Homo sapiens: one gene and its partner. The protein of the gene in region 1 purifies or fractionates together with the protein of each later gene. This does not show direct contact. Each region holds a gene or a part of one and is shown on either strand. Other genes may lie near its edges.

Region 1 (4,482 bases):
GAACCTCCAACTTTGTATCCAAATCAGGTAGAAGTAACCTGGATACCCCCTACTTGAGACTGACGTCTGAAGGGAAGGCAGTCTTGTGGGATTGATTTCTGCGACATCTGGAGTCTGATGCTCCAGACTGCAGTAAGTGTCAGGACTAAATTAAATAGTAAGACACTTAGTTGGTGTGAGAGTTGGAGAAGTAGTATTGGAAAAGACACTGTGAATTTGATTTCAAAAGAAAAAAAAGTTTCGCTATTTTTGTTTTGTTTCCAATTATTATAAAACTGGTTTATGTCTTACTTGGCACGGACAGAAATTCTTTACATGTCTGCTTGACATAACAACGTCACAGATTCTGGACCGTAATTTATGGTAAATGGCAAATCAAACACAGAAGCATTCACCCAGAGCACTAAATAGTCTTTGGGCAGAACTATTAAACACCAAAAGAACAGGCTACCCTGTCCTTATCTTATTTTCTTTTAGATAAGTTTTTATAATATTTAGACCAGAATCAACATTACTCTGCCTTAGAGGGATTTTTTTTTCTTTCAGAACAATCACAATAATGATATCAATGAACATGGATAGAGAATATACTATGGGCCAGATAGTCTCCCAGGTGGTTTACAAGTATTTTATTTATTCCTTTCAATAATGCTACAAAGCAAGCAATTTTATTATGCATCTTTTATAGGAAAGGAACATGAAGATCATGTTATCCAAAAATCATGAAATGGGTAAGGAATAGAAGCTAGATTCAAAACAAAACACAAAAACATTTAAACATTTAAACATGCAAAGTTGGGAATTGATTAGTTTATAGGCTATCAAAGCATTGTGACCCAGTTCAAAATAGTTGAAATTCCCCTTCAGATTTTTTTATAAAAGGCAGTATTTCTCAAAGTGTAATCCATAAGTATTCTGAATGATTCAGATGTTCCTCAACCTTTAAGAACCACAAATCTATGATGTGAACATCAAAGTTCTTTCACTCTGCTACCTCATGACAGTTAATATAAATATGGTATTTAAAACCGTTAGCATTGTTTACATTGCTATATTAATGTAGAAGTTCACAGAACAAACAGCTAATTAAAAGATTAAATAACACGCATGTAAATGCATGTAAAATGCCGAGCATATTCACTAGCATGTAGAAATGTTCAATAAATGAAATATATTATTATTATCATGATACAATTACAGAAAATTAAAAACTTATTTCAGGTAATTAAGTCATATTTATTCAGTTCAGGGATTGTCAATGATCAGAATTCTGGATTTTGTCTTTACTAATTCATTGCACTTGCTATCCTTAGCCAGGGACATATCTGTTCATCTTCCCAATCACAGTCGTTTTGCTTTTACCAAAACTTGGATGCTAAATTAGTTCACTACATATATTCACCCTTAGGAAATACTGAAATCTGTATTCCCTTGCCAAAGGTGATTTACCTTTCCAAGTGGCATAGCTCCAGGGAAGATATTTGGTTGTTGGAAACTTTCAGTGACCACATAGGATTTTTAACTAAATAGAGCATGAGACCAGAGGCACAAAGCAGTATCCACAACACTAAGATTAAGCAAACATTTGTACTCAAACCATCAGAAAGATTCAGTCCCATATATATGTCACACTGGCTGTGATTCTCCACTACAAAGGTGAGTCTAATTTGTTTGAGAATTATTTTTCCTTTACTTTAGGCAGTAATTTCAAATTACTCATATTTATTATGTATTTGGCATTCTACATATGAATTTTGAATTGTAAAGTAACCTTTGTAAAGTTGAGGGACAAATCACACAAAGTAAATGTTTTCCTGTCATCCACGGGGTGTTTTGAATATGTAAGATGCAGTCTGTGTCTACCCAGAACCAAAAAGCCAAAAATTCTTGAATAAAGTTGTTAATTAAGTCAAATGATTGAATTTGTATTAGAGGATTCTTTTCTACTGAACAGTGTGGCTGTTTCAATATTTTCCCCATGTTATATCAATAGCTTGTGGACATACAGACACTGCCTTTGTGGAGGGTAGGATGTCAGAAAGAAGAGAAAATAAGATTGTTGAGTGGAACTCTATTGTTCCAGAACAGTGATCTGTGTCTGTTTTCAAGTAAGTATGAATGTGGGGAAGGGGATGATAATCAGTTTACCTACCAGCTTCAGAAAGGGCATGGTTTTGAAGTTAATAGACACAACATTCCTCACCTACATCTAAAGAAATTGCCTAGAAGAGCTAAGAAAGACAAATAGAAGTAAATATAAATATACATACTAGAAATATATATAAATATATGTAGAAAAATATATAAATATATATTTTATACATAAAATATAAAAATATTAGAATGTTTTAAGTCCAGCTATCCTATTTAATAGCTTAGAATTAATAACAGCCCATGAATTGACTTGAAGAAGAAATATTTATAAGCATCTGTTCACATTATTATAATTTGCTGAGTTAATATAGCCTTTAGTTGATGGATTAATGGTCCACTTGACAAATAAATATAGCTGTATATTTACAATGCCAAAAAATCCTTTATTCAAAAAATACATTGGATGGTAATTAGTAAAAACAGTCAAGCTGCAATAGCTCTGTATACCTGAAAGAAGAATTACTACAGTTAAACCAAATTTTCTATTAAATTATCTGACTGATACAATGTGCTGAAAAGTCTCATCTATAACAATATTATACATCATAATTTTTCACAGCTTAGGATGATGCTGGTTTATTTATTTTTGTTAACTTTTAATGTTAAAGAAAAAAACAATGGTTCCAAATTAAAGTGATGTTTACTCTTTACCTCTGTCTGTAGAGAAGAGAATTCAATTTTGAATAAGTATAACCATTCAGAATGAAAAAGTATAAGCATTTAGAGAATCTAAGAATTTTCAGATCTTAGACTTTCACCATCATGTCACCATAGCCTTCAGTTCAATAATCTAATTAATATTTTATGCTGTGATTGTCAAGCTTCTGAATACGTCAAAATATGGCACCATAAAATGAACTAAACTAATAAATTAAATTAAAAATTAAAATTTTGTTTTGGTGTGCAATATGACATTAAAAAAACTATTTTCAAACTCTGTTATATGCAAAAATCATGTAATTTCTTTTTAGTAATCTTTTTAGAAAGTTCAGTATTGATCTGTGGCCTGTTAGGACCTGGGCTGCATAGGAGGTGAGCGTCAGGTGAAGGAGCATTACCCACTGAGCTCTGCCTCCTTCAGATCAGCAGCAGCATTAGGTTCTCATAAGAGTGTGAGTCCTATTGTGAACTGCACGTGTGAGGGATCTATATCACATGCTTTTTATGAGAATCTAATGCCTGATGATCCGAGGTGAAACAGTATCATCCCGAAACCATCCCCTCTCCTACAACCCCCATCTGTGGAAAATGTTGGGGACCGCTGATTTAAAAACATATGAGTAAACAAAACAAAAGAAAACAAAAATGTTAAGTAACTTTCCCCTTATATCATAATATAAAATGACAGAAATGATTCTTTTTTCCCATGATTTAATGTTTACCTTTTTCTTAGCACAAATAAAAGTCATGTAACTTTTCAGGTAGAAAATGTTATTTCACATACTTCCTAAAATCATGACACATACCAGCAATGGTACACCTACTGTAATCTGGAAAAAGCTGACTAGACACAGGTGATTTTTTTTTTTTTGGTGCTTCTCTGCACACTCTATTTTATTATTCTATTTTATTTTACTCTGAGTTCTGGGATACATGTGCCAAACATGCAGGTTCATTACACAGGTATACACGCGCGATGGTGGTTTGGACAACAGTGATTTTTAAACAAGGACTTTTTAATATCAAGTCCTGCCCTCCTTTATCCATGCATTCTGCATTAATAAAAGGAGTCTGATGGTGGTTTAAAGTTATAATGGAGGCAGTGGAAGCCTGTGGTCAAGGAGTCAGTGGGCTGTGGCAATCACATGAGAAAGATACTTTAAATAGTATGTAAAATAAAGGGACTGCATACACTACATAGGAAGACAGTAATGCAACCAACAAGGCTTGGCACAGGCTTGGCACATGTAGTGTCTTTGCCTATTTTGCCTGTTTTATTGTCCTATAATCTTTGTTTATTTCCCTGATAGCCAATGCTTAAATAAGCCATCTCAAAGACGCTGGTGTTACTGTGTGTTTGTGTCTGCTCACATCTGAATGCTCATATAGTGGATGTAGTAATTTAACCAGTCATTGGCACTGCCTTTCTGAAGGCCCTGAATGAGACCATCTGTGTATGAGATGAGGTCTAAAATCCTGCAAATATACAAAGGCATGACATTTGCGAATATTCTATGAATAAAAGTGGGAAATTAGCTCTTTGCCTCTTTGTGCTCTTCTCTTTATGAGTTGACAAGTTCTCTTCTTTGTATGGAGTTTAAAAATGGTAAACACTAAAAAACTTTTTTTTATGTTCAATATGTAACAGTCCTCAACCTGCAAAAGCTT
Region 2 (3,820 bases), on another chromosome or scaffold:
CAGGACTGAGAAGCGAGGAGGCTGGGCACAGCGGCCCACACCTGTAATCCCAGAACTTTTGGAGGTGGAGGTGGAATGATCACTTGCATCCAGCAGTTCGAGACCAGCCTGGGCAACAGAGCAAGACCCCATCTCTACAAAAAGTAAAAATTAGCCGGGTGTGGTGGCGCATGCCTGTGGTCCCAGCTACTCAAGAGGCTGAGGTGGGAGGATCCCTTGAGCCTGGGAGTTCGAGGCTGCAGTGAGCCATGATTGCACCACAGCACTCCAGCCTGGGTGACAGAATGAGACTCTGTCTGAAACTAAGAGGAGAAAAAAAGGAGAGAAGGAATAAAATATTACTTTTTTTTGTTTTTTTGAGACAGATTCTCACTCTGTCGCTCAGGCTGGAGTGCAGTGGCGTGATCTCGGCTCACTGCAACCTCCACCTCCCAGGTTCAAGTGATTCTCCTGCCTCAGCCTCATGAGTAGCTGGGGTTACAGGCACCCACCACCACACCCGGCTAATTTTTGTATTTTTAGTAGAGATGGGGTTTCATCATGTTGGCCAGGCTGGTCTTGAACTTCTGACCTCAGGTGATCCACACACCTCAGCCTTCCAAAGTGGTAGGATTACAGGCGTGAGCCACCGCACCCGGCTGGAATGAAATATAACATTTTTAAAATGTATTAAGCTCCTACTGTGTGCTACTCTTATTCACTCAGGTCCGACCCCTTAGTCCTTTAACTACCTGGGGCTTCCTTTTCTTTTCTTTCTTTTCTTGTAGCAGTGGAGGAAAATGAGGCTGGTTAAGTGAAGTGAGCTCTGAGACCTTGTGTGACTTTGTTTCCATTGTATCCATTTGCATTAAGTGCAGTGAGCTCTGGCGGAAACCACCCTCTGCCCCGTCTGTTGGATCCATTTGCAGAGGCCTTGGCAAGGGCTCGCGTGATCCCCGTCCTGCTCACCCAGGCCTGACCTGCGGAGGGGGCGGAAGCCTGCAGCCAGTGCCTGTCTCCTCCCTCAGGCCACTACTACGTGCCCCTCCTGAGAGCGGAAGAGACTTCTTCTCCAGTCATCGGGGAGCTGTGGTCCCCAGACCAGACGGCTGAGGCCTCTCACGTCAGCCGCTATGGAGGCAGCCCCAGAGACCCGGTACTGACCCTGAGAGCCTTCGCAGGGCCCCTGAGTCCAGCCAAGGTGAGCTGCTGTAGAAGCTTCTGGAAGTGGTGCCTGGCTGTCCCTATACTGTGCTGCTGGGTGTTCCAGCCTGTTGCCTTGTGCGTGGTCTCAGGGACCATGTCCTGTGGAGCCCCAAGGTTGTCCTCATCTCAAACCATCCACCAGTGATTGGTGATGAGAACGTTTGTCAGAGAAATGTGTGTTCTTGGCTCTGTGGCTTGCTTACCAGGGCCGATGTGCTGGGAGCCACTGTCTCAACAAAGCAGACATTCCCTGGGCCAGCCCCGTCCTGTGCGCGTGTCGCCCTGTTCTTGCTGTGTTGATGGCCCGTCCTAGGCACCTTGCTGGTGTAGCGAGGCTGCCCGTTGTGACTAGGAAAGCTCCATCTGCACGTCCACCTCCTGACCACGTTTCCCTGTGGCTGCAGCCCCCGCTGGCTTCCTCTCAGACAAGTCCCTCTCCTGGAAGCCTCAGCCCCAGGTTCTACTCATCCCCAGTGTTCAGAGAAATCCTTAATGGTGGTGTTGCTGGGTCAAAGGTTGTACACTTTTTTATTTACAGTTGACAATTCTTTCTCCTGTTGGAATACTTCACACACTGACCTGCACGCACCATCCTGTGCTAGAAACTTTCTAAATCAGTTGCGATGAAAACGGCTCCAGGCCGGGCGCCGGGACGCATGCCTGAAATCCCAGCACTTTGGGAGGCCGAGGCGGGTGGATCACGAGGTCAGGAGATCGAGACCATCCTGGCTAACACGGTGAAACCCGTCTCTACTAAAAATACAAAAAATTAGCCGGGCGTGGTGGTGGGCGCCTATAGTCCCAGCTACTCGGGAGGCTGAGGCAGGAGAATGGCCTGAACCCCGGAGGTGGAGCTTGCAGTGAGCCGAGATCGTACCACTGCACTCCAGCCTGGGCGACAGAGCGAGACTCCGTCTCCAAAACAAAAAAGAAAATGGCCCCAAAATTAGGTGGTATCAGGTAAGGTTAGGTGAGATGCATAAAGCATAAAGCTCTAGGGAGAGTGACTGAGAAAGATCTGGTTTCTTCTCCTGCGATGGGAGCAGTGTCACATGTGCGTCGGGGTGGCAGCTCCGAGCCGTCCACTGTCCTCAGGGTGAGGCCTCGTGCTCGGGCCCTCCTGGTTCTGAACCTCACAGCCCAGACGGGGCTGCAAGAAAGGAGACCGCCTCCCCTCCCCCAGGTCAGAGTGCAGCCGTGCGGCCACTCAGCCATGCCACAGGTGGGCACGTGGCCCAGGGATCTGCTAGTGAAGGGGAGAGAAGGAAGGGTGTGCGGAGACAGGCAGCTACTGCGATGACGACGGCTCTTCAGGTTTCCGCAGCTGAGGGGCGCAGTGCCTGACACGGCTCAATACATTTTTTTTTCTTCATAGGCAGAAGATTTTCGCAAGCTCTGGAAAACTCCACCTCGAGAGAAAGCAGGCTTCCTTCACCACGTCAAGAAGTCGGACCCGGAAAGAGGCTTTGAGAGAGTGGGAAGGTACTGAAAGGCTGAGCCGCAGCAGCGTGGGGCACACAGTTGGTTGCATTTTGATTAATGACAGAAGGTCAAATCACAGCTTCAAAGTACCAATTTCCAGAAGGCTTTTCTGGGAGACTTGGTCCTTTTCGTGAAGGTCTAATTCCTTGTGGATGTTGTGGAATTCTAGCTTAAGCCAGTCCCGTCCCAGACCTGGGGGATGTCTGCAGTGCCTTCCTTTCCTTTTCTAATTGGAATTCCTTGTTGGTTCTGGGACATGTTTCTAAGGAACCTTAATATTTTATAGAAGGTACCATATAATGCTATGGATTCCTTGGGAAAAAATAGGCCATAGCCACAAAGCTAAATTATGCTGTAATCAAATAAAGCTTCGTGGAATTGTTTAGAATATTTTCTCAAAATATGTGCCCAGTGTCAGGTGTACAACTGGAACCCAGAAAGGACCTCCAGGCTTTCGTGTGCCTGGCCATGACTAGAACCACGGGCAAGTTCACAGGGCTGTTCCGTGATCATGAACACGTCCGTCTGTGGGAGTTGAACTGTGTGACCTGGGTTGCTGGCGTGAGGGTCTGTCGGGCTGAGGCCTCCTTCCTGCCTGCAGCCGGTTCACGGCTCCTGAGAGCTGTGCCGGGTCCTGCTTACCTGTGAGGAGGCGTGCTGTTTCAGAAAATGCACCGTATGATTTCAGCTGCCAGTTAAGGATAAAGGAAAATTATAACCATGATTGCAGACATTGCTTTGGTACTTGAAGCTTTAGTGGCTTTTTTCTGTGTAGTTCTGAGTATTTTTTCTGGTTTCACAGCTGGTTAATTGTGTTTTGTTTCTTACAGGGAGCTAGCTCATGAGCTGGGGTATCCCTGGGTTGAATACTGGGAATTTCTGGGCTGTTTTGTTGATCTGTCTTCCCAGGAAGGCCTGCAAAGACTAGAAGAATATCTCACACAGCAGGAAATAGGCAAAAAGGCTCAACAAGAAACAGGAGAACGGGAAGCCTCCTGCCGAGATAAAGCCACCACGTCTGGTAAGCATGTGCAGGCGTGGCTGTGGCAGCTGGGAGGGGCCCCCCATGGCCGGGGTCTGACGGGATGCGCACATCTGTTTCTCGTCTCTTGGTGTTTTTAACGTAAAGGTCTGGTACTTTCCCTTAGGTTAG

Evidence for each region.
Region 2: the proteins of OR2T33 (region 1) and ANKLE2 purify together in Homo sapiens (affinity purification with mass spectrometry; one large-scale study listed by BioGRID and IntAct). This does not show direct contact.

The regions. Positions count from the first base shown.
Region 1 is NC_000001.11:248,274,939-248,279,420, reverse strand, and holds the start of OR2T33 (olfactory receptor 2T33), read left to right. Parts: upstream 1-1,444; 5' UTR 1,445-1,656; intron 1,657-4,482.
Region 2 is NC_000012.12:132,734,253-132,738,072, reverse strand, and holds part of ANKLE2 (ankyrin repeat and LEM domain-containing protein 2), read left to right. Parts: intron 1-852; coding exon of another isoform or gene 853-860; exon of another isoform or gene 861-997; intron 998-1,007; coding exon 1,008-1,180; intron 1,181-2,560; coding exon 2,561-2,667; intron 2,668-3,497; coding exon 3,498-3,688; intron 3,689-3,820. UniProt on the Homo sapiens protein: Involved in mitotic nuclear envelope reassembly by promoting dephosphorylation of BAF/BANF1 during mitotic exit.